Regions from separate parts of the Homo sapiens genome. Here regions 1 and 3 are each linked to region 2. Evidence: fine-mapped expression QTL. A gene starts in region 2. Each other region holds a variant in brackets. All regions are shown on one strand. Distances are from middle to middle.

Region 1 (8,000 bases), 64 kb after region 2:
CTTGAGTTCCAGATCTTTTCACTGGTGGGTAGTTTCTCACAGCAGAGACACAATTGCAGTGCTAGGTACAGCTGGGAAAGTCTGCATATACACTGCAACAGGCGGGCAGCCACTGTGATCATGAAGGACCTTGGAGAAGAGGTCCTTGTTCTCCCCAGGACTCCACTGTAGACATAGCTGGGGCATCCCCTACAGGAATGCAGCATGGAGGCACCTATAGAAAGCCATTCTGGAATAATCCAGGGTAAGTGCAGCCTGACAGGAGGAGCACCCCCCAGATTCAGGCCTGCACAAGAGGCAGAGTCACAATCACTCCCTGTTTGGAATAACAACATTCCTATAGATGAAAAGAGGTGCCTGTCTGATCAGAATAGCTGAAACACTAGTATAGGAGTGAGGCTGTGAGGTAAATAGTTTTCCCGCTGACTTGGTAGGGAAGCTGTGGTAGTTCCCACTCTTCACTCTGATAAATCCTCAGCACATCTAATTGAGAGCCACCCCAGCTACCCTCATCAAGGCTGGGACTTTGGCCCACCATTGGGTATTACATCTACTCACCTGCCTTAGCGACATCTGCTGCCTATGCAGGGATACCCCCTCTATGGGCCTGAAGCCGGAATCATCAACTTAGGAAAAAATTAAATAAATAAGGTGTACACCACGAGAGAACAAGATAAGCTTCAAGAGATCCCTGCCATTCCAACTCTATAGGAGACAGTGAACTCACCCACACACTAATAATATAACTACTATAGCCAGCATTAGGGAAAGCCAGCACACAAAGACTCTCTATAACTAAGGAACTCATACAGAGTCTTTATCCCTACAAGTACCAAGAATCAGTTTAGACTAAAATGAACATTAAAGTCTAATCCTTAAGAGAGAGAGAGAAAAAGTAAATAAAAAACAGTCAAATCAAAAATATATTCAAGAACAATTTGAAGAAGCAGTCTACCCAAACGAGAAGGAATTAGAAAACTAATTCTGGTAATATGACAAAAACAGGGCTCTATAACACCCCGAAAAGATCACAGTAGCTCCCTAGCAATGGATCCAAACCGAGATGAAATCTCTGAATTGCCATATAAAGAATTCAGAAGGCTGATTATTAAGCTACTCAAGGAGATACCAGAGAAAGGTGGAAAGCAACTTAAATTTTAAAAACAGGGCCAGGTGTGGTGGCTCACACCTGTAATCCCAGCACTTTGGGAGGCTGAGGCGGGTGGATCACGAGGTCAGGAGATCGAGACCATCCTGGCTAACATGGTGAAACCCCATGTCTACTAAAAATACAAAAAATTAGCCGGGCGTGGTGGCGGGCGCCTGTAGTCCCAGCTGCTGGGGAGGCTGAGGCAGGAGAATGGCGTGAACCCGGGAGGTGGAGCTTGCAGTGAGCCGAGATCGCGCCACTGCACTCCAGCCTGGGCACCAAAGCAAGACTACATCTAAAAAAAAAGAAAAATGAACAAAGCCTCCCAGAAATTGGGGTTTATGTTAAATGGCCAAACCTAAGAATAATTGGTCTTCCTAAAGAAATCTAAAAGTTTGGAAAACTTATCTGAGGGAATAATTACGGAAAACTTCTCTGGCCTTGCTAGAGATCTAGACATCAATTACAAGAAACGCAAAGAAATCCTAGGAAATTCATTGCAAAAAGATCATCACAATCCTAAATATATATGCACCTAACACTGGAGCTCCTAAATTCATAAAGTAATTACTACTAGACCTAAGAAATGAGATAACACACAATAATAGTGGGGCACTTCAGTACTCCACTGACAGCACTCGATGGGTTATCAAGACAGAAAGTCAACAAAGAAACAATGGACTTAAACTATACCCTAGAACAAATGGACTTTAACATGGATGTGTTGAAAAGAGAACACTTTTACACTGCTGGTGGGAATGTAAACTAATACAACCACTATGGAAAACAGTGTGAACTAAAAGAACTACCATTCGATCTAGCAATCCCACTACTGGGTACCCAAAGGAAAAGAAGTTGTTATATGAAAAAGACACTTGCATATGCATGTTTATAGCAGTACAATTCGCAGTTGCAAAAATATGGAACCTGTCTAAATGCCTGTCAACCAATGAATGGATAAAGAAAATGTGATTGCCTGTAATCCCAGCACTTCGGGAGGCCGAGGCAGGCGGATCACAAGGTCAGGAGATCGAGACCATCCTAGCTAACATGGTGAAACCCCATCTCTACTAAAAATACAAAACATTTAGCCAGGCTTGGTGGTGGGTGCCTGTAGTCCTAGCTACTCAGGAGGCTGAGGCAGGAGAATCGCTTGAACCCAGGAGGCGGAGTTTGCAGTGAGCTGAGATCGTGCCATTGCGCTCCAGGCCTGGGCAACAGAGCAAGACTCCGTCTCAAAACAAGAAAAGAAAATGTGATATATATATATATACATGGTGGACTATTACTCAGCCATAAAAAGGAGTGAAATAGTGGCATTTGCAGCAACTTGAATGGAGTTGGAGACCATTATTCTAAGAGAACTCAAGAATGGAAAACCAAATACTATAGGCTCTCACAAGTGGGAGCTAGGTTTTGAGGATGCAAAAGCATAAGAATGAGATAATGGACTTTGGGGACTTGAGGAAGGGTGGGATGCAGGTGAGGGATAAGACTACACATTCAGTAAAATGTGCACTGCTTGGGTGACAGGTGCACCAAGATCTCAGAAATCACCACTGAAGAACTTATCCATGTAACAAAAAAACCACCTATTCCCCAAAAGCTATTGAAATAAAATAATAATAATAGTAAACTCTTCTTTGGGTTTGCATTACCTTTAGGGTACATGGACAGGATAAGCAAATAGGGTATTGTATGATTTCACTCTGCTGGGATTTATTGTTTCCCTAGACATAAATGGAGGTTTATTTCTTAAAGAGGTTTAGTTTTTTAAAATAGCTTTAGCGAGATGTCATTTACATACCATTCTGTTAATCATTTAAAGTATAGAGTTCACTGGTTTTAATCAATTCATAGACTTGGGCAACTATTACCACATTCAACTTACAGTATTTTTTACCACTTCTGCAAAAACTTCATACACATTAGCAGTCCCTACCAATTTCCTTCCAAACTCCCTGTCCCTAGGGAACCACTAATCTATTTTCTATCTCTATGGATTTGCCCCTTCTGGACGATTCATATAAATCAAATTTACAGTACAATGTGTGGTATTTTGTGACTGGCTTCTTTGATTTAGTTTCGTGTTTTTAAAGTTCACCCATGTTGTCATATAAGTCAGTACTTTGTTTTTTATTGCCAAATAATATTCGATTATATGGATATACCACATTTTGTTTATCCATTCATTCATTGATGGACTTTGGGTTGTTTCTACTTCTGGGCTACTAATAACTGTTATGAACATTTGTATAGAAGTTTCTGTGTAGGTATATGTTTTATTTCTCTCAGGTAGATTCCTAACTGTGCAACTGGTAGGTCCTAAGGTTAAGTTTATGTTTAACTTTTTGAGAAACTGCCAAAGTGTTTTTCCAAAGTGACTTTACCATTTTATTTAGTTATTTAATTTTTTAAAAAATTATTTAAGTAGCTTTTGGGGTACAGTTTTTTGTTGTTGTTACATGGATGAATTATATAGTGGTAAATTCTGAGATTTTAG[C/T]GTACTCATCACCTGAGTAGCGTACATTGTACCTAATATGTAGTTTTTTAAATCCCTAGCCACCCTTCCCACTCTTCTCCTTCCAAGTGTCTAAAGTCAATTGTATTACTCTGTATGCCTTTGTTTACTCATAGCTTAGTTCCCACTTGTAAGTGAGAACATATGGTGGCTTCACCGTTCATTTTACATTCCCACCAGCAATTCATGATGGTTCCATTTTCTCCACATTCTTGAAACCTTTGTTCCTTTTTGTTTTTCTGCTATAAGCCATCCTAGTAGGTGTCGAGTAGCATCTCCTTGTGGTTTTGATTTGCCTTTCTCTAATGATTAATGATGTTGAGCATCTTTTCATGTGCAATGTTTTTGACTACATATGTCTTCTTTGGAAAAATGTCTATTCAGACATTTTGTTTTTAATTATTGAGCTGTATATAAATCCATCAAACTTTTGATTTGCAAATTTTTTTCTAATCTGATTTTCTTACTTGATAGTATTTGTCGAAGCCTCCAAATTTTTAATTTTGAAGTCCAATTTACTTTTTTTTGTTACCTAGGCTTTTGGTGTAAAATCTAAGAAACCATTGCCTAACCCAAACTCATCAAGATTTACTCCTATTTTTCTTGTAAGAATGTTATAATTTTATCTCTTGTATTGAGACTTATGATACATTTTAAGTTAATTTTTTGTATGCTTTAAGGAAGGGGTCAAACTTCATTCTTTTGCATATGGATATCCAGTTGTCCCAGCACCATTTGTTGATAGGACTGTTATTCCCCCAGTGAATATTCTTGATACCCTTGTTGGAATTAAATTTTTGACCATAAATGTTTTCCATTTTCATATTGTCTATCCTTATGCCAAGTACTACACTGTTTTGATTAATGTTGCTTTGGAGTAAGTTTTGAATTATGAGTCCTCCAATTTTGTTCTTTTTTAAATTTTATTTTATTTTATTTTGAGACTGGGTCTTTGCTCTGTCATCCAGGCTAGAGTGCAGTAGCGTGATCGTGTCTTACTGCAGCCTCGAACTGCTGGGCTCAAGCAATCCTCCTACTTAAGCCTCCCAAGTAATTGACACTACAAGTGTACACCATCACACCCAACTAATTTTTAAATTATTTTGTGGAGACTGTGTCTCACTTTGTTTCCTAGGCTAGTCTTGAACTCATGGGCTCAAATGATCCTCCCGCCTTGGCCTCCCAAAGTGCTGGGATTGCAGGTGTGAGCCACTGCACCTGGCCTCAGCTTTGCTCTCTTTTTCAAATTTGTTTTGGCTATTCTGGATCCCTTTAGTTTCCACATGAATTTTAGGATCAGCTTGTCAGTTTCTGCAAAGAAGTCGCAAAATGAGCAACTAATATGGTGACGTACGAGGAAAAGCTGGAGCTTGCTTTTGCTTATCATTCTGTCCTCCTACACCTGTTTCTCAGTTTTCTTTCCATTAAAAAAAAATTGGATACTTTTTTGTTACGTATTTACGTGTTTTTAGGTTGAGAATGTTAACTTTTATTACAAATATCTTTGCTACCACACCTAGCTTATTTTTTATTTTTTATAGAGATGGGGTCTTGCCATATTGCCCAGGCTCATCTTAAACTCCTACACTCAAGCAGTCTTCCTGCCTCAGCCTCCCAAAGCACTATTATTAAAGGCATGAGGCACTGTGCCTGGTTGCATTATGTTTTTTTAAAAAACAGTGTGTATACTTTAATTAAAAAATACTTATTGCTAAAGAATACTAATGATCATCTGAGCGTTCAGTGAGTTGTTTCCTTTTGCTAGTAGAGGCTCTTGCCTGTGGCTGCTGATTGATCAGGGTGGTGGCTGCTGAAGGTTTGAGTGCCTGCAGCAATTTCTTAAAATAAGACAGCAATGAAGTTTGCCACATAAATTTACTCTTTTTTAAATGAAAGGTTTCTCTGGAGCATGTGATGCTCTTTGATAGAATTTTACCCACAGTAGAACTTTGAAAATTGGAGTCAGTCCTCTCAGATCCTGCCACTGCTTTATCAAGTAAGTTTATGTAATATTCTAAATTGTTCATTGTCATTTCAACAATGTTTACAACATCTTTACTAGGAGTAGATTCCATCTCAAGAAACCACTTTCTTTGCTCATCCATGAGAAGCCACTCTGAGGCCAGGGGCAGTGGCTTATGCCAGTAATCCCAACACTTTGGGAGGCTGAGGCGGGTGGATCGCTTGAGCTCAGGAGTTTGAGAACAGCCTGGGCAACATGGTGAAACCCCGTCTACAAAAGAATACAAAAATTAGCCAGACATGGTGGCATGCACCTGTAGTCCCAGATACTCAGGAGGCTGAGGTGGGAGGATTGCTTGAGTACAAAAGGTTGAGGCTGCAGTGAGCCGTGATCGTGCTACTGCACTCCAGCCTGGGTGACAGAGCGAGACCCTATCTCAGTCAGCCAATCAATAAAACAAGCAAGCAAGTCACTGTTCATCCATTCACGGTTTATCATGAGATTGCAGCAATTCAGTCACATCTTCAGCCTTCAGTCTTAATTCTAGTTCACTTGCTCTTTCTACCACATCTGCAGTTACCTCCTCCACTGAAGTCTTGAATTGAACTCCTCAAAGTCATCCATGAGGGTTGGAATTAACTTCTTCCAAACTCCTGTTAATGTTGATATTTTGACCTCCTCCCATGAATCTCAAATCTTCTTTATGCCATCTAGAATGGTGAATTCTTTCCAAAAGGTTTTCAATTTACATTGCCCCAGTCCATCAGAGGAATTACTATCAATGGCAGCTGTATGTAGCCTTGCAAAATGTATTTCTTAAATAATAGAACTTAAAAGTTGAAATTACTCCTTGATCCATAGAACTGCAAAAGGAATGTTATTAGCAGGCATGAAAACAATATTAATCTCCTTGTACATCATCAGTAATCTTGTTAGGTGACCAGGTGCACTGTCAATGAGCAGTAATATTTTGGAAGGAATCTTTTTTTCTGAGTAGTAGTTCTCAATGGTGGGCTGAAAATATTCAGTAAACCATGCTATAAACAGATGTGCTGTCATCCAGGCTTTGAGCCCAGGCAGAGTAGATTCAGCACATTTTTTTGTTTGTTTGTTTTGAGACAGGGTCTTGGCCCAGGCTGGAGTCCAGTGGCATAATCATAGCTCACTGCAGCCCCCAACTCCTGGGCTCAAGCAGTCCTCCCACCTCAGCCTCTCAAGTAGCTGCGACTACAGGCATATGCCACCACACCCAACTAATTTTTAAATTTTTTGTAGAAACGGGGTCTCACTATGATGCTCAGGCTGTTCTTGAGCTCCTTGCCTCAAGTTGTCCTCTGGCCTCAAGCAATCCTCCTGCCTCAGCCTCCCAAAGGGCTGGGAGATTCAGCATAATTCTTAAGGGCTCTAGGACAAATGAGTGAGTATTGGCTTCAACTTAAAGTCACCAGCTGCATTTGCCCCTAATAAGAGAGTTAGCCTGTCCTTTGAAGCGTTGAAGCCAGATACTGACTTCTTATCTCTAGCTATGAAAACCCTAGGTGGCATTTTTTTCAATAGAAGGCCGTTTCATCTACATTGAGAATCTGTGGTTTGGGGTAGATACCTTCATCAGTTATCTTCTGGATAAGTTGCTGTAGCTTCTACAACTACTTCACCTTGCATTTTAGGTTAAATGCTTCACCTTGCATTTTAGGTTAAAAACAACGTCTTTCCATAAACTTCTGCTAGGGTCTATGAACCAGCCTTTGCTAGTTTGCACTTTTCTTTCGCAGCTTCCTCATGGTGACTCTCAGCCTTAATAGAATTGAAGAGAGTCTTACCCTGGATTAGGCTTTGACTTGAGGTAATGTTGTGGCTGGTTTGGTCTTCTATCCAGACCACTAACACTTTCTTCATATTAGCAGTAAGGCTGTTTCACTTTCTTATCATTTGTGTGTTTACTGTAGTTAGCACTCTGAATTTCCTTCAAGAGCTTTTTCTTTGCATTCATAGCTTGGCTGTTTGGCACAAGAGGCCTAGTTTTAGGCCTGTCTTTGCTTTCAGGATGCCTTCCTTACTAAGTTAATCACTTTTTAGCTTTTGATTTTAAGTGAGAGACGTGACATTTCCTTTCATTGAACACTTAGAGGCCATTGGAGGGTTATTAATTAATTAATTGGAGGGTTACTAATTATTAATTGGCCTAATTTCAATATTGTGCCTCAGGGGATAGGGAGGCCTGAAGAGAGGAAGAGAGATGGGGGAACAGCTGGTCAGTGGAACAGTCAGGACACACATATTTATCCAATTTGCCATCTTATGTGCGTGTGCTTCGTGACATCCCAAAATAATCACAGGAGTAACATCAAAGATCACTAATCACAGAT
Region 2 (8,222 bases):
AGATCTCCCATAGGCTGGCAGGCCGTGCCTGGTAATTTTTTTTTTTCTCAAGGCCTGGCATATAAGTGATATTCAATAATGTTGGTTGAGTCAAAAGAAATAATGGATGACTAATTTAAATTTGCAATTCCTATGTGCAATTTTTCTATCCTTACACTGCATTGCTCTTATACTAAATGACTTATCTTTACCTTCTTCTTAACCTGCTGTATCAGGGTGTGGAATTTACTCCCTGATACATATATTAAAAACAAACAAACAAACAAACAAAAAACTTCAGGTATATATAAGAAGCTATGTTTTAAAAAAACTTTATTATGGACCATTTCAGACACACACAGGGAATACTATAATGAATCCCATTTACCCTCAATTAGCTCTAACCACCATCAATTTGGCCAGTCTATAGCTCCAAACTCCCCCCTTATTTTTCTTTTTTTTGCGATGGAGTCTCGCACTGTTGCCCAGGCTGGAGTGCAGTGGTGCAATCTCAGCTCACCGCAACCTCTGCCTCCTGGGTTCAAGCAATTCTCGTGCCTCAGCCTCCCAAGTAGCTGGGACTACAGATGCGTGCCACCATGCCTGGCTAATTTTTTGTATTTTTAGTAGAGACGGGGGTTTCACCATGTTGTCCAAGCTGGTCTCGAACTCCTGACCTCATGATCTGCCCGCCTTGGCCTCCCAAAGTGCTGAGATTACAGGCGTGAGCCACCGCACCCAGCCCTCTTATTTTTCATTTATTGTTTATAACTTATAGGAGCTATCCCTTTTATTTTCAGTATGATCCATACCTTTCTTTTCAGACAAAAACCCTTAAATAATGACTTTAAATGACTTGGTGAATTTAGTGAACCAAAACAATATTTTCCTATGTTGTGGTTAAATGAATTAGAAAATTAGTTTCAATAAAATACACAAGAATATGAAAGAGAATAAGAATTTATGAAATGTAATTTTGGTTACAAGCGTTGTAGTGATCAGGGTTTGGGATAGATAATGAAGTACAAGATGAACAGACAAATCCCTATGTTGCAACTTGAGGGTAAAGTAAAAAAAAAAAAGTGATTTCAGGGGAAGGCAGGTTAAGGGATGCCTTTCAAAATTACCTGGTATAGTTGGCTTTTTTTTTTTTTTAAAGATGAGGGTGAATTATGAGTGACTTAAGGCTGAAGAAAATCTTTATGAGGCACTAAATATTTACGAACAACAGATATCACTGAGGCAAAGATTTAAGCAAAAGAAAACGGCATCTGGAGGACATGGAGAGAGAACAGCCTAAGAGTTAACATCTTCCTTGCAAATAGAAGAGAAAGGGTTAAGGGTGAGAGTGATCAATGAGTGCTAGAGTTATCAAGGAGCAGGATGATGTTCAGAAAGGTCATCTATTTGGATATGAGGAGGAATCATAAGAGACTGGACGAGTAGGCAGTGAAGGCCACTTAGTACTAGAAAATATAATAAACTAATGGTCTTATCGACCATACTGGTATCAAGAGCTATCTCAATGATCAGGATCTTAAGAGTATTTCAGTTCCAATCATTCATTCTCACTGCCTCTGCCTGATTCCAGTCCTGGCCTGATTCCCGTTAAATTTTTTTTTATAAACTACCTTTTATTTTTCTTCTGATGATGAACAAGAGTTCTGCATACACGTACACACTTTATATTTAACATATATTTATATAGTGCTTACCACTGTCACATATCATTCTAAACCCTTTATAATTACAAATTCATTTAATTGAGAAGAGACATGATATCTTTCCCCCAATTAAAAGATCTAAATTGATTTTCAATCTGTAGGAATAAACTTGGTTTAAAGTTTGAGAAGAGAACCAAACTTGTGTGTGATCTAAACATTAAAAGTTAAATCCCCTCGACATTCTCTTTCCCTACCTTGCCTACCTACTACTATATTGAGGAGGAAAATGTTGGTAGAAGAGATTTACAAAGGCTTTGGGCCTCTCCCTACAGTCCTCATGACAACTTGCATGCTTTTTGGTGAAATAAAAAATAGTCGGCCGGGCGCGGTGGCTCACGCCTGTAATCCCAGCACTTTGGGAGGCCGAGGCGGGCGAATCACGAGGTCAGGAGATCGAGAGCCATCCCGGCTAAAACGGTGAAACCCCGTCTCTACTAAAAATACAAAAAATTAGCCGGGCGTAGTGGCGGGCGCCTGTAGTCCCAGCTACTTGGGAGGCTGAGGCAGGAGAATGGCATGAACCCGGGAGGCGGAGCTTGCAGTGAGCCGAGATCCCGCCACTGCACTCCAGCCTGGGCGACAGAGCGAGACTCCGCCTCAAAAAAAAAAAAAATAGTCATGGCAACGTGTGGTGTCTCACATATGTAATCTCAGCACTTTGGGAAGCCAGGGGACCAAGGAGAAAGGATGGCTTGGGCCCAGAAGTTCAAGGTTGCAGTGAGCTATGATCACAACACTGCACTCCAGCTTGGGCCACTGAGTGAGACTCTGTCTCAAAAAATAATCACTCCTCCTAACAAAGTTGAATACTTCCAGTTGAAGCCAATAACCTGCTTCAGTGATTTCCTATTCCTTAGGCAATGGAAAATGATTGGGAAAGTTGCCTTTGAATTCCCCTATGGTTAGACTTGAAAAACAAAACAAAACAAAAAACCTTGTCTTGTCTAAAAAAGAAATCCTGCAGACCAGCCTGCAGATAGCGGTAAGTCCTAAGGGGTTCACCCGTTTCACATTTCAATAATATGCAACCTAAATAGAGTTTAGTGTTCATGTACACAAAATGATCCCGTATTTTAAACACACACTGTGGAATCTTTTGGTCCACCTCAAACATGTGCAGTCTTCCTGTAAAATTAAAAATATCAGCGGCACAAGTCACATGAACATCTCATTTCACAAGTCTTAATCCCAAGAGAATATAGTTTTTTAAAAAACAAAAACAAAAATCACACCCTATTTTAAATGCACCAAGCTGCCTCTATTAAAAAAAGTCTCAAGATGAGTATCCTTTAATATAATTTTTGCAAATAATAATCTCTATATCATTAGTAACTTCGAAATGTCATGGAATATCACCCTTAGCCAGGTAAATTTTGTCAACAGAAGTGGAACTCTCCAATTTTTGGAAACTACCTATTAAAAAATTAGGGCTCAAGTTAGTAGGGACTTTTTATTACCTGGCACTACAGATGTTCAATATTTACTGAACGTATTTTTAATTAACCTCTAGACAGTCTCTTTGCCTTTACTCAAAACCTTGCGAAGTGGCGTTTTATAGAGGGGCAAAGATCACATATATTGTGTGTCTGGTACACAGTATTATATTAACAATTATAACATCACCAAGAATGGTTATAAAGTGAAACTCCACATTAAATGACTGCTTATAAAGTCTCTTAATTTTATTATAACGGGACTTTCTGCGAAATACTGTTTCCAAACGCTAGGTACTAGCACAGGGGAAAGAAGACTCAGAAAGCTGAAGGTTCAACGAACGCAGTTTTCAATCCTTTATCCTGGACTACTGCCACCGAGTGTCAGATGCCAGAGGAATAATAAAAAACCGGGAAAACTGAAAACCTCGGATTGCGTTTCATCCCTTAAAAAAAAATCTGCAAAACTAAGATGTGATTAGTCACGCAATGCTTCAGGATTGCAGGAAATCGACGTTGTGGCCCGACGCTGACTGAAACATGAGAAGGGCAAACAGGTTTGCTGTTGTTTTCTCCCACCTTTCCTTCTTTTCCAGGCTATGTGACTTAAGGACATGAAAGCGTCTTAGGGGTGAACAAGAAAAGCTAGCGGCGCGGTCATTAGGTGTTAGGGTTTGGCTAGCTGGGGTAAACGTGGACTCTGGTCCGGCATGGCCCCAAACCATCAATCCATCCCTGACCTCGCCCCCTTTCGCTGTCCGGCCCGGAGCCCGCAGCCGGGCCGAGCGCTTGCCCTTCTGCATCTCAAGGTTATAGGACCGGCGGGCGCGTAGGGCAGTGGTAAAACAACCCAGTCGAACTGCGGGCGCGGCAACCGCTGAGCCTCACCAGCCTCACCCGCTCCCAGGCCCCACTTCACCTCGTACGCTGGAACTGGAAGTCAGACTCATGGCGCCGTCGCTTGCAAGGCGTGTGCACTAGGATACCGAGCTCAAACGGGTTCGCGCGGCCGGCGAGAGTAAAGGTGCCAGCGGCGTACTAAAGCACCGACTCCGCGATGCTACCGCGCAGGCGCCGCGGCGGGTCGTAGGCACGTGTGTGAGCTCGACCCTGGTAGGTGCTGAGCATGCGTGGAGCTGTCCTGGCCATAAGGAAGTCTGGACTCCGGATTTTGACAGCTACGGGAGGTGGGAGGAGGAAAAGACTTAGGTAGCAACAGAGTTTGCGCAACGCCGAGGGGCGGGGCCCTGAAGCCGAGGGGCGGGGCCCTGAAGCCGAGGGGCAGGGCCCTGGGATTAGGGAATCCAGGCCAGATTTTACGTCTCTTCCAGGTGTGTGGGCTTCTGGGGGCAGAAACAGGTGTTAATAGGACACTTACTTTAATCAGATACCTAAGATTTGACCCCAGTTTTTCTTGCTCGGGGCTTGTGACGATTTACCTTCAAGGCCAGGTCCAGCTTTTATATAACATGCCAGCGGCGGACATACAGGAATCAATGACTGAGTCCCATTCCAGAACCTCGCGTAGCTACCGGTGTCCATCCCTTTCTGCTTTTGATATAATTATCTACTCAGGACCTTGGAACCTGCACTATCTTAAAGGTCGAGTGGGAGAGAAAAAACTTGCTCCTTTCTTTAAAAAACATGTTCACTTAAAAAAATTAGAAGTTTTCTCTGTCTTCTACAGTCTGAAATTCGTGTCGGTTCCAATTTTATTTTATTTTTATGTGTTTTACTTTTTGGTAAGAGCGGTTTAGAGACAGCAATCCGGGGAGGGGGGCTGAGATTAACTCGAAGGGTATTTTGAAGGCGCATCTCTAATAAGCTGCCTGCTTTTACTTCTGTTGTTTTCGTGCGGGGTGGGAGTTGGAGGGAGTTGAGTGCAGTTAGGGGTGGCCTTTAGAGCCACCCTTGGCAATGCTAGTGCCTTCCAATTCTTGCCGGACTGCTCCGCACACTTAGAAGTCCCTGGCTTCTCTGAGCTGACGCGCTGAGAAGCGTGTTGAATGAATGAGGCCACAGCAGCACGCGTGACTTCGAAATGCCCGCGGGGTGGGGGTGAGAAGAAACAGGGGTGCGCTCGCCCTATCCCTGTCGCCGTCGCCAGGTCCTGGCAGCACGGCGCGCCCGCCCCGCTGACTTGGGGGGCCGGAATCCCGTTGGACGGCCTCTGGGCATGCTCAGTAGCGGCGGCAGCGGCGGTGCGGGCGGCGGTGACGCGCGCGCGGCAGCTGAGGGGACTGGAGGACGGCGGGAGGGGGCGGGGGCGCAGGAGGTGGGNCCGCCGTCGCCGTCAGGGCCCCAGGGAGCGCGGGGCGCCGCTGCTGCTGTTCTTCGGCTCGGTTCTGTCTACCGGGCAGCGCCGGGGCCGGCGGCTGCGGCGGCAGAGGAACAGGAGCCGGGAGCCGCGTTCCGCCGAGAGTTGGGCAGAGGAGCGCCCGCGCCCCGGCGGCGTCATGGGCCCCCTCCCCGCGCTTCAGAGGGCACCAGCCGCGGGAACCCCCGGGCCTCCTCGCGCCCGAGCCTGAGCGACCCTCGGGTTCTCCGGCGCCCCCTCCCTCGCCCTATTTTTTTTCCTACTCTCGCTGCCGTTACCGCTTCTGCTCTCCGTTATGGCAACAGAGCCACCATCCCCCCTCCGGGTCGAGGCGCCGGGCCCCCCAGAAATGCGGACCTCACCGGCGATCGAGTCCACCCCTGAGGGCACCCCGCAGCCGGCGGGCGGCAGACTCCGCTTCCTCAACGGCTGCGTGCCCCTCTCGCATCAGGTGGCCGGGCACATGTACGGGAAGGACAAAGTGGGTAAGTGGGGGTGGCATAGGTCTCGCCGCTCCCCTTCCGCCTGTGCGAGCCCCCTGTCAGCGGAGGCAGCCTAGCGCTCTCGGGCCTGCCTGGACGCCCCCCTGGTGTGCACGCCAAATCCCTGGCCTCTTCCGCTGTCCCCCGAAGCCTCGCCACTCGAGCAGAAGGGGCTCGGAAAGTGGGACAATTCCTAGGGTGTGGGTCGTCAGGCTTGCAGCACGGGTGGCAGGGAGAGGCGTGTCTGGTCTCACCCACCCCCCAGGGAGGTTGGGTGTTGATTGGAGACGGCGTTGTTAGTGAAAATAAGGAACTTCATTTTTACTGGACGGGGAAGTAAATTCTCCCTTGAGCACAAGGTCTGTTTATTATAGGCGAGTAGCTATTGCAAAAGAAAAGGAATGAAATGCAGATGATGCTAATCTAGTACTTCTCTGCTGGGTGCAGCTGCATAGCTGGAGGGGAAGAAAAACACTGGGCTTTTTTAGGGGGAGGTGAGAAGGGAAGAAAGCTTGTCCGTGATTTTTCCCTGTCCCTTGAGGAGGTTTTTCTGGTGTCTCCTTGATTTCTCTGGGAGGCGTGGTTCCAGTAGTGCAGAAACTCGGATTCCTGGTGGGAAATTCACACGCATATTGTACCAGAATGATACACAAAATGTTCAGCTATTCTTGTTCATTTTATAAGGCTGTATCATGGCCACTGTAATACATTTTCTGAGTTCACAAGTTTAAAGCCTATCTCAGTTTAGGAACTCTAATTCATCTAGTTTACCCGTAGTGGTTCCCTGGGCCATGATTACTGGGGTAATCTGATGGATGAGTATGTGAGTATTGTGGATCTTTGACCCGGAAGAGCCACTAGAGACAATTTAGTTTATGCCGGTAAAACGATTCGGGTTTAGGTTGCTAATACTGACATTTTTAGACGAGGTGACTAAGGCCAACCCTGGTTAAGAATGACGTGCCTGAAGTCACGTTACAATATGTTAAGAATTGTGAAACCAAGAGTTCTTCCTTTGAGTACTGTATTTTTTCACCATGTATTGTGTTTGCTGAAACAACTCAAGGCTTTTAGAAAATGGATAAGTATTAATTTGAGTATATGCTATTTCTCAAAGCGACATTTTCCACTACTTTTATTTTTACCTACTTTGTTTGTGTGCCTTTCTCCCCACTGAATTGTGAATTCCTAGATGTTAGAGAGAGAATCTGTATTCTCTCATAGCCTTGTGCACGGACTGGGAATCAGTAACACTCAGGAAATATTGAATAGTGAAAATTGACAGTTGTTTTAGTATACCGAGGTAAAGAAACAACGTCCTCAAGTTGCTCAGCATAGACATTTCCTCCTGTGTGCCAGTGTCTTGTAATGAGAATTTGAGAGTACTCATGGGGTTTCTGTTAATAGAGGAATGCCTATTGATTTATATTAATACATTGTGATTTTACTATTCCTAATAATATTCTAGATGCCTGAAAAAGTAAATGTTTCCCTAAAGGTCCCTAGAGATTGACTTATATGCAAAGGAGAATAGATTTTAAAAATCTCAACATAAAAACAATCTAAATAATTGTCACTTAAGAGTGTAACCACTGCTTATTACAGTATGTAATAGTGATCCCATTCAGAGTGATTGCAAATAGTGGCTGAAAAGTTAATTTGTCACCCAAATTGCCTAATTAATGGAAAAGTTTAGATTCTAGAGGTAGTAGTCCTTAATTTTATTATGGCATTCAGTGTAAAATAAACTTTTTTTGCAATTTCATAAGGGTCTTTTGAGTAGGGACAGTGTTTGTGTCACCATAGTAGAATGGCTTAAACATACTGTGCTAGCAACCTAATATTTGTTGAATTTAATTCTCAGATAGTTATACAATCCTGACTGTATTGTTAAGTAAAAGGATACTTGACTGATGATATATTCCCTATTTGTAAAATGGATAAGATGGTCACTAATTCAAAGTTCAACAGTTTTATTATGTTTCTCCACTGTCATAAGTCATGTACAGTTTACATCATTTAGATCATGCTTTGGTCTGTCAATTGAAATAATTCTCAGGATAAGCTTTGTTAAGGACGTTATGTTGGTATTTGTTTTGTTTTTAAATTTGTGTTACTATCAGTAAGTAACCAGAAATGTTCCATTTAGAATTATTTTACCTATTTCCAAAAAGGAGTTGTTGGCTTTGTTAGTTTAAAAATTAAACTCATGGAACTTGATAGAACAAAGGTGCTTGAACAGAAAAATAGATCTTGTTATATATGCTAAGTAACAAGCATATATTAG
Region 3 (8,273 bases), 120 kb before region 2:
TTACTGTTCTACGAACTGTACACCTTAAATGTGGATACATCTGCAAGTAGCAACAAGGATTTCCAAACAGACTCAATGGCAAGTGGTCCTAGTGGCTATCTCACTTTTCATAAGAGAACTATCCCACTTCTGCCTAACTGAAGAATACTTGATGACATTCTACCATATTTTATTTGCCTATTAAGAGAAAACTACCTATATTCATAGTTATATAAATCTCAATTCTTTACCATAAGAAAAAAGTATTTCAATGATACTCACTTTTTTTTTTGTCATAGCTTTCCTTTTTAAATGTTTGTCCATGATTTCTTTTTCCAAAGACATAATCTGACTTGGAGTTAGCTGTTCTTTAAATCTGCTTATCTCTTCTTTATATACCTGCCACTCCGCCCTATAAGCATCTTGATATATCTATAAATAAAAAACCCAAGTAAGTCAACAAACCATTGCTGGCAAATTCAACATAGCACATGCCAGGGAAAGGCAACTGCATGACTTCAGACAGACAGATTTTATCACCAGGTGGAAAATGTGCTCTGGGATGAGATGTATATGGATTAAAACATACATTTTCCTTATATATACTAATCAAGGTGAGAGTTTAGTAATCAGCTTCCATTTTCAAACTACTGCCACTTCTTCACCTCCACCCCATACATCCATATTCTCATTATTTATGCAGATGAGAAGACATAAAGTTTCTTTGTAGATAACAGATTATTTTTTAAAAAGTCTGATCCATCTGGTCCTTTAAAGGACATGACAATTGCTCCTAACTGCAGAATAACTGGTCAGCAATGTTGAAAACTTATGTGCTTACTTTTTTCTTTGAATCAGGAAGTTCCCTCCAACGCTGGGCAATTCTTCTAATTAGTTCTGTAGTTTTTGCATCTATGGAATGAAATAAAAAGAAAAAAGATGCCACAATTTTACCTCTCAGGATTAATTTCTAAAGATATCCAGGAAAGCACAATCCATACCACACATAACTTAATATAATGATTTAACTTTCCTTTATCCAACTAATTTAAACGTAAGTAATTTATCCAACATTATCAAAAGTCTATTATCTAACAACTAAGGAGTATACCATATACCACCAGAAACAGTCAACAGTTTGATTACTAGGATTTTTTTTTTTTTTTGAGACAGGGTCCGTCACCCAGGCCATCACCCAGGCTGCAGTGCGGTGGTACAATCTTGGCCTAATGCAACCTCCACCTCCTGTGCTCAAGTGATTCTCCTGCCTCAGCCTCCCGAGTAGCTGGGACTACAGGTAGGCGCCATCATGTCCAGCTAATGTTAGTATTTTTTGTAGAGACGGGGTTTCGCTATGCTGCCCAGGCTGGCCTCAAACTCCTGAGTTCAAGCAATCCATCTGCCTCAGTCTCCCAAAGTGCTGGGATTACAGGCGCGAGCCACCACACCAGGCTGATTACTAGTTTAAGAAGCTGGATGATCAATTGCTTCAAGTTTTTTACTTCCCTTCCATATTTCAAGCAAAACACTTTTTCAAGTCTTTGAGGAATTCCTAAATTTATAAAAGCTAACAACAAAATACATTCTCGATCCATATAACACAGCCTCGTATTTCAATAACAGAAATATCATTTGGAAACAAGCTATTCGAAATTCAATCTGTTATTCTCCACTTCCTTCTTCATCTTAACCGGAATGATGGCGTGCAATTAATTGATTTTTAAAAATACCTGTTAGTACTAACTCTTACATTTAAAAGATGTGGGTACTTAAGCATGTCTCTGAAACTAACTCCTTACCTATAATGTGAGCTTTTTTTTAAAATTATTATTGTTTTTTGAGACAGGGTCTCGCTCTGTCACCCAGGCTGGAGTGCAGTGGAGCAGTCATGGCTCACTGCAGCCTCAACTTCCTGGGATCCAGTGATCCTCTCACCACAGCCTCCCAAGTAGCTGGGACTACAGGCACTGCGCCCCCATGCCCACCTCATTTTTGTATTTTTGGTAGAGACAGGATTTCCATGTTTCCCAGGCTGTTCTCGAACTCCTGGGCTCAAGCAATCCACCCATCTCGACCTCCCGAAGTGCTGGGATTACAGGTGTGAACCACCTCACCCAGCCTGATGTGAGCATTTTTTATTCTCGCCGAGAGGCTTTCTAGAGAGTCAACAAACATCCTACCTGGAAATGTTTTTTTTTTAGGAACCCAAGACAAGAAAGGATTTATCCTTTACAACCCACCATCCCCTTGGCAAGGTCGAGGTCTGAATCAAAGAACCAGAGTGGCTCTGAACTCCTATGATGAAAAGGTTTATCCTTTCTTATCTTGAAAGCTCTTGAAATTAGCAGTAAATTGCATAGAACTTTACAGTTCTACAGAACTTACAGTTTATGGATGCTTCCACAGAAGTTGCAACTTTATTAACAATTCCCTGAGCCAGAAAAAGGAGGAGCTAGGCAAGAGAAAATAATTCATCAGTGGTCCTCTAGACCAAAGGCAACAAGGCCCCAAATTCAGCTTTTTTATCCTCTTCCTAGGGTGCTTTCTACACTATACGTTATTTTTAAAATACCATTTACTAGTTCTCATTTATATTTAAAGCATTTCCATTTGGTATAAAATAGAACTTCCTATTTTACAGACATCAAATGATTGTTCCTGCAGTCACTGAATGCTTTAGCACTGCAATTCAACATTGGTATTTAACTGCTTAATGGCATTTTTATTACATGAGAAAAGGGTATATGCCCCAAAACTCCTTACCTGGGTTCTGAGCTTTAAATATGGGTAGTTGTTCTTTAGAAAATCGAAGGTAAGAACTTACAGGTTTCTTTGGACAACTTGCCAAGACAGATGAAAACCACCTCGGTAAATACACAAAACTACATATAAACAAAAAGAAAATAACCAGTGTCAGATGTTTAACTGTCAATATTCACATGTATATGAACACAGATCCCAAATAAGAAATGTCATCAAGATACTATGTATCCAACGCCTTCAACAAGAATGCTAGAGACTTATTAAAACCCTGTCCTAAACGGAGGGGAGCGTCTGCAGGACTGAAGTCTCAAAGCCCTTACCTCCTAGGAAGGGCAGGGAGTGAAGGAAAGCGTCTATACTCCAGCTCCTGGGCCCCGCCTCCTCAATGCCTAGATGATGGCCGGAGACTCGGCGCGAATTCGCAGAGGAGGCGGAAAGGATCCAAAGCTGGACAGTGAGGAGGGATGGGAGAAGCGAGTGGAGGGTAGCAAGAAGGTACGG[C/G]GTATTAAGAGAGTAAATAAAGGCCTGGTCTCAAGGCCACCGTCCCCTTGGCAAGGTCGCGGTCTGAATCAAAGAACCAGGGTGACTCTGAACTCCTAGGAGGGGCAGAAAGTGAAGGATAGGGTCTACATTCCAACCCCGGGACGTCCTGGGCCCTGCTGCCCCTAGGGCACAGGCAAGCGGGCCTACCTGAAGGGGGAGCGCAGTCGACTTCCACAGCCGGTGCACAGCTCTGCTCCAGACCTTCCCAGGGCACTCAGCACGCCCCACATGCTTCGGAGAAACGCCATCGCTCCGGTGGATGAGGCAGTGACCCGACCCCAATCTCGGAGAGCCTCCTGGCAATACACAACTCCAGCAATCACAACTGGAACCCGCGTGCGACCCTCCGGCGTGTGTTATCATGCCCGCCACTAGCGAGGCACTATGGGAAATCTGCTAACATCCGGTCGGTAGATGGGGGCGGGGCGGGGCGGAATTGGCGCAGGCGCGGGAGAGCGTACCCCGGTGGGCGGCCTTGCGGGGGAGGAATAAGAGCCGCGGAGATGAAGGGAAACCGCAATCCTCTAGCCTGCGGAGGGCTCTGGCTTCGAGGCGGCGCTGTTGAGCCACCTCTGTCCCCGGCCGCCCGGAGCAGTGGGTTCCTCTGCCGGGCCAGGAGGGTGATGGAGGGACCGCGGCGGCGGCCTCACCCCAACCCGGCGTTGGCCGGTGTCCGCCCGTGACGGTCACAAGGGCTGTACGTAACAGACAGTCCTGCATCCAGGACCCCGAGGTCCGATCGGCGGCTGCTGCGCGCCCAGCGGAGCGTCTCAGTTCAAGCCAGGGCTGGAGCTCGGAGTTCAGAAATAGTAACGGGAGAGGCGGGGATTCGCAAACCTAAAAATGCAGATTCCAAGGCCTTACCGCAGAGCTTAATTCCGTGTGTCTATGTGGGGCCCATTAATCTTCATTTTAGCGAGTTCCCCAGAATTTAACAAGTTCTAATGTCGGTGGTCTTGAGACCACATTTAAAGCAATATAGCTTTAGACTGTTTATTCTACCATCTACTGCAGTCTTTCAGTCTGGCCTCCAGCTTGCTTAATTTGAGCAGAGGAAACTGGCTAGTTGTCCACAGTCGCTAGTCTCAATTCTTCTAGTTCCAGTATTAACATTAACGTCTTGACTTGGGAATATTGCATTCCCTCGTTAAGATTCAGTTTCCCCCTCTGCAAACGAGGATGTTAGACTAAATCAGTTTTCCCAGCCAAAGCCCTGAGAACGTGTGACAAGTATGCCTTGAGACATTGATGTGTCAAAAATTGCTGTATAATTTTTTTATTTGTGTTATAGAAATACCATTTTCTGTATAGGCAATGGCATGAAAAAGATTAGGAAGACCTAAAGATACCTAAGGGTCCTTCCAGCCCTTAAATACCAGTTGTTTCAGAGCTAACCACCTTCTGAGACAGCCTTTCTTCTGTTGGATAGCCGTAATTGTTAGAAAATTCTTACCAGTGTCATATTGAGCTGACAGTCTATTTACCTTTCTGTAACTATGAAAACATTGGCTCTCTGGAAGTAGGACTAAGCCTACTTCTTCTTTTAAGCGGTAATAACCACTTCCCTTTTATAGACTCCCAGGGTTGAAAGGGACCTTCCAAGTCATCTGTTCAAACCTCCCATTCTGGCATGGAATAAACAGGTTTTTTTCCTGAGTATATACTATGTACAACGCCCTAAACATAGATAAAAGACACAGTGTTGTGCCCCAGCCCACCCCCCGCCCCCAGCCCCAAAGGTGAGGCAAAGTAGCAAATAATTACAACATGGGGCTCAGACAGAAGTTACATTTAAGTTGATTTCTAAAATAATTTGTTTCCCTTTTTGTTCTAGAATGTTTTTGTTCTTTCAAATGTTTGACATAAACTTCTTTTGGATATTAAACTTTTTGTTGTTTTCGACTTTCATTTGTATAAATCTTGCTGTAAAGACCTTAAAAATCAAATCCATAACATTTTTCATCAGATACCAATCTTCCTTAAAACTCATTTACATTGCAGTGATAATTTTACTTCTAAAAGCAGAATTTACAAAGAAACATAACTTTATCCACTAAAACTGTCTTTTAACAAAAAGACATGGTATATAATTACTTTATAAAACATGAAGACTTACTGCAGCCTTTCCCAGGGTCCCTTTGTTGTAAAGTTCTCTAGTCCCATGACTTCAGCTATTAGTTATAGCCTCATGACTGCCATATTGAACCCAGTCCTCTCCTTTGAGTTCCGTATCCACATAACCACTGTCTTCTGTACATTTTCACCATCATGTCCCACAAGTACTTCAATTTCAACATTCCCTGAACAAAATCCACTATCTTTCACCCATCTTGAAGTCCTTCTCTTGGTAAGATGCACATGTTTTCCTCTTTAATCATCTGAGCCAATAACTTGATAAATCATTTTAGAATCTCCCCATTGACACTCCACCTGCCATTAACCAACTGATGATGAGTATTGCTGATTCTGCCTCATTCATCCCTCTAGTATGTATTTCCTTCTCTCTAGTCCCATTGCTGTTGCTTTTGTTCAGGCCAGTAATATGCTGGTAAATAGCTCTCCAAAAAAGAAAGCCCCAATTTGTGGTGTTTGCTGAGTTCTATGGTGTAAATACTCCCACCATTGGCAGATTTCATGCTACTGACAAATTTTTCTTTTCCTGTTAACATGCAAACATACATATTACATAACCAGCATTGCTCCTTTCTTCCTGTTGAACTTTTAATATTTCTTAAATTAGTAATATTTGAGCAGACACATTGTGGTAGTTGATGAAAAATTAAAACAACACACCCTGAAGTTGGATTGCACTTTAATATTTTCAGAAATTTTTAAATAACTTTATTTGACTGTATGATTCAAATATCAAAGGAAAAGGTAGAGAAGGTATTGTCATGATCATTATTCCCAATTTCCAGATGAGAAAAATGAAGTTCAGAAAGCCCAACTCATAAGCTTCCAACAGTAAGTTGTGTAGGTAAAAATTGCAATTCATTGTCCTGTGCTTTTCGTTTGTATCAGATCACTCAGACTCAGTGAACATGCCACATCATTCCAGCCCAAAATATCTTTAGTGGATCATCTATAGTGTGTGAGCTCACATCACTTACTTGTGACATCATGTACCACTCTGGTTTCTGATCTTTTTCTCTATGTATACATATTTTTTTCCACAATAGATGGTAAGTTATATTAGGAAAAGACTAAATCTTATGCCTTCTTTTATCCCCTATTGTACCTAGCACAGTACACTGAGCATGATAGATGGATGAAGGGACAAACGGATGGATAGGTGAACTGACAGATATATAGATAGATAGATAATAGATGACAGACAGACATATAGATACACAGAGAGAGATGAATAGTGTGAAAAGATTAGCATCTGCACAAATTATTTATATATAAATTTAGCCCCATAGAGAACAACTACCTGTTAGAAGTGTCATTTGCCAATAGAAGGACACATTTGCCAGTGTGTGGAGATGGAAACCATGTAAAATTCTGAAATATATATACACATGAAAGTAATGATTATGGTTCATTGATACTTGCACATTGGTAAAGCAGAAGGTAGTGCCAATAAACAGCAGGAGCAGCCAGAAACCTGGATAATTCCCTGCTGAATAATGGAGTTAGATGCACAGATATCACTCAAATGAAGAAAAAATGTTGCTAAGAGAAAGCAGTCTTGGCTTTTGTAATTATAATAGATAAATAATTTAGCTACAACAGGAGCAATTACCTAATAGGTTTTAGCAGGATAAATAGATGTGATTCTGAACTTGTAAGTAAAATATCTCTGGAAATAAGATCATACTATGGACACCACATTTAAAGACAATTTCCTCATAAGCAATTACAAAGCACTGTGATAAGCACTTGAAAGGGGCACAAAAAGCATAAGATATTGATCCTGCCCCAAAGAGCTGACACTGTGATTGGGGGAACAAAGCATAAAGACACAAAAGGAATAAAAGTATAACAGTGCATTGCAGCAATGAGAAAAAATTTTACACCTTGAATATCTCCTAGCTTATTTTTTCTGTGAGTCAAGATTTTAATAAATTATGTATGGAAAACTACTTGTATAATTTTTTCTTTCAAACCATTTTTATTGACATAGAGTCTGTTTTCATGCCACTGGAGTTTGCCTTTAAAATCAATATACAAAAAGAAGGAAGGGAAAGAGAAATAGAGAAATTAGAAGAAAGACCTGTTGCATGTTAATAGTTCCCAGCTACCCGAAATTATTATTATCTGTGAAATATTTCTCAATTAGAACAAAGTCTGCATGCAGCCTTAATTATTAAGGGCATATCAGAATTATTTTAAGCCATTGCTGTAGCAGCATTACAAAAAATAAATGTAGCTTGTCTATTTTAAAGCTGATTCTATGAGTCAGCAGGAGGTAGGACAAGCAAAAAGAACAGCTATAATTTTATGCAAATGTATAATACCCCAATTCATATTACTGGATGTTACTGAAAGCTGACTTCATATTACTGAAAGCTAACTTAAAGATCGGAAGAAATCCAGAATGATTGTATTGAAGGAATAATGCTGTTAATAGGACAATATAATGTGTCTGCCCTCATACCACGGTAAAGTATCTGATCAATACAAATGGTAATAATTATAATTTATTGCTAAACTACATGCCAAGTATTTTACATACATTATCACTAATCCTTTCATAAATCCTCTAAGGTGCTATGATTTCTACTGTACAGCTATGAAAACTGTATAAATAATAGGAAGGATATCTTCCTTGTTAGCATGTTAATAACAAAAATTGCCACCTCTGAATCCACAGTTTGCAGCTTTGAAGTTATATATGACTCTACGTAGATACAGGATAGGTAAATCAGTCATGAAGCGGTAGTTTTCTTAAACACCTGCTCACATTCTATTATTTCCAGTCCCCATAAATGCTTTCTTATTTATCTGAGTGGCTTACTAAAATAATATCTTAAGCCAGGGCAATG

Direction of the effects. Alleles are on the strand shown, and positions count from the first base shown. SD is a standard deviation of normalised expression in the study named. Not every link is listed here.
For the expression in fibroblasts of the gene that starts at base 4,198 in region 2, allele C in region 1 goes with a higher level than allele T (small effect, 0.23 SD a copy in GTEx).

Evidence for each region. PIP is the estimated chance that this variant, and not a neighbour inherited with it, causes the effect.
Region 1: its variant is fine-mapped to the expression of CISD1 in fibroblasts (GTEx, PIP 0.98).
Region 3: its variant is fine-mapped to the expression of CISD1 in whole blood (INTERVAL, PIP above 0.99).

What each region holds. Positions count from the first base shown.
Region 1 is chr10:58,201,407-58,209,406 of GRCh38, reverse strand. All of the region lies in intron 4 of IPMK (inositol polyphosphate multikinase), which reads left to right. Among named protein-coding and RNA genes, the nearest start is that of IPMK, 62 kb to the left of the region's middle. The variant C/T (reference allele first, on the strand shown) is at 3,654.
Region 2 is chr10:58,265,138-58,273,359 of GRCh38, reverse strand. CISD1 (CDGSH iron sulfur domain 1) reads right to left here and starts at 4,198. Exons shown (of 3, transcript NM_018464.5): 1 at 4,056-4,198. The coding sequence starts at 4,086. IPMK (inositol polyphosphate multikinase) reads left to right here and starts at 5,466. Exons shown (of 6, transcript NM_152230.5): 1 at 5,466-5,938. The coding sequence starts at 5,749. RefSeq lists silencers at 3,771-3,820, 4,411-4,470, 5,176-5,685 and enhancers at 4,041-4,090, 3,936-4,492, 5,937-6,231, 6,186-6,295.
Region 3 is chr10:58,380,808-58,389,080 of GRCh38, reverse strand. It overlaps TFAM (transcription factor A, mitochondrial), which reads right to left and starts at 3,671. Exons shown (of 7, transcript NM_003201.3): 1 at 3,433-3,671; 2 at 2,743-2,861; 3 at 821-891; 4 at 262-411. The coding sequence starts at 3,533. RefSeq lists enhancers at 3,271-3,927, 4,121-4,220 and a silencer at 3,611-3,990. The variant C/G (reference allele first, on the strand shown) is at 3,244.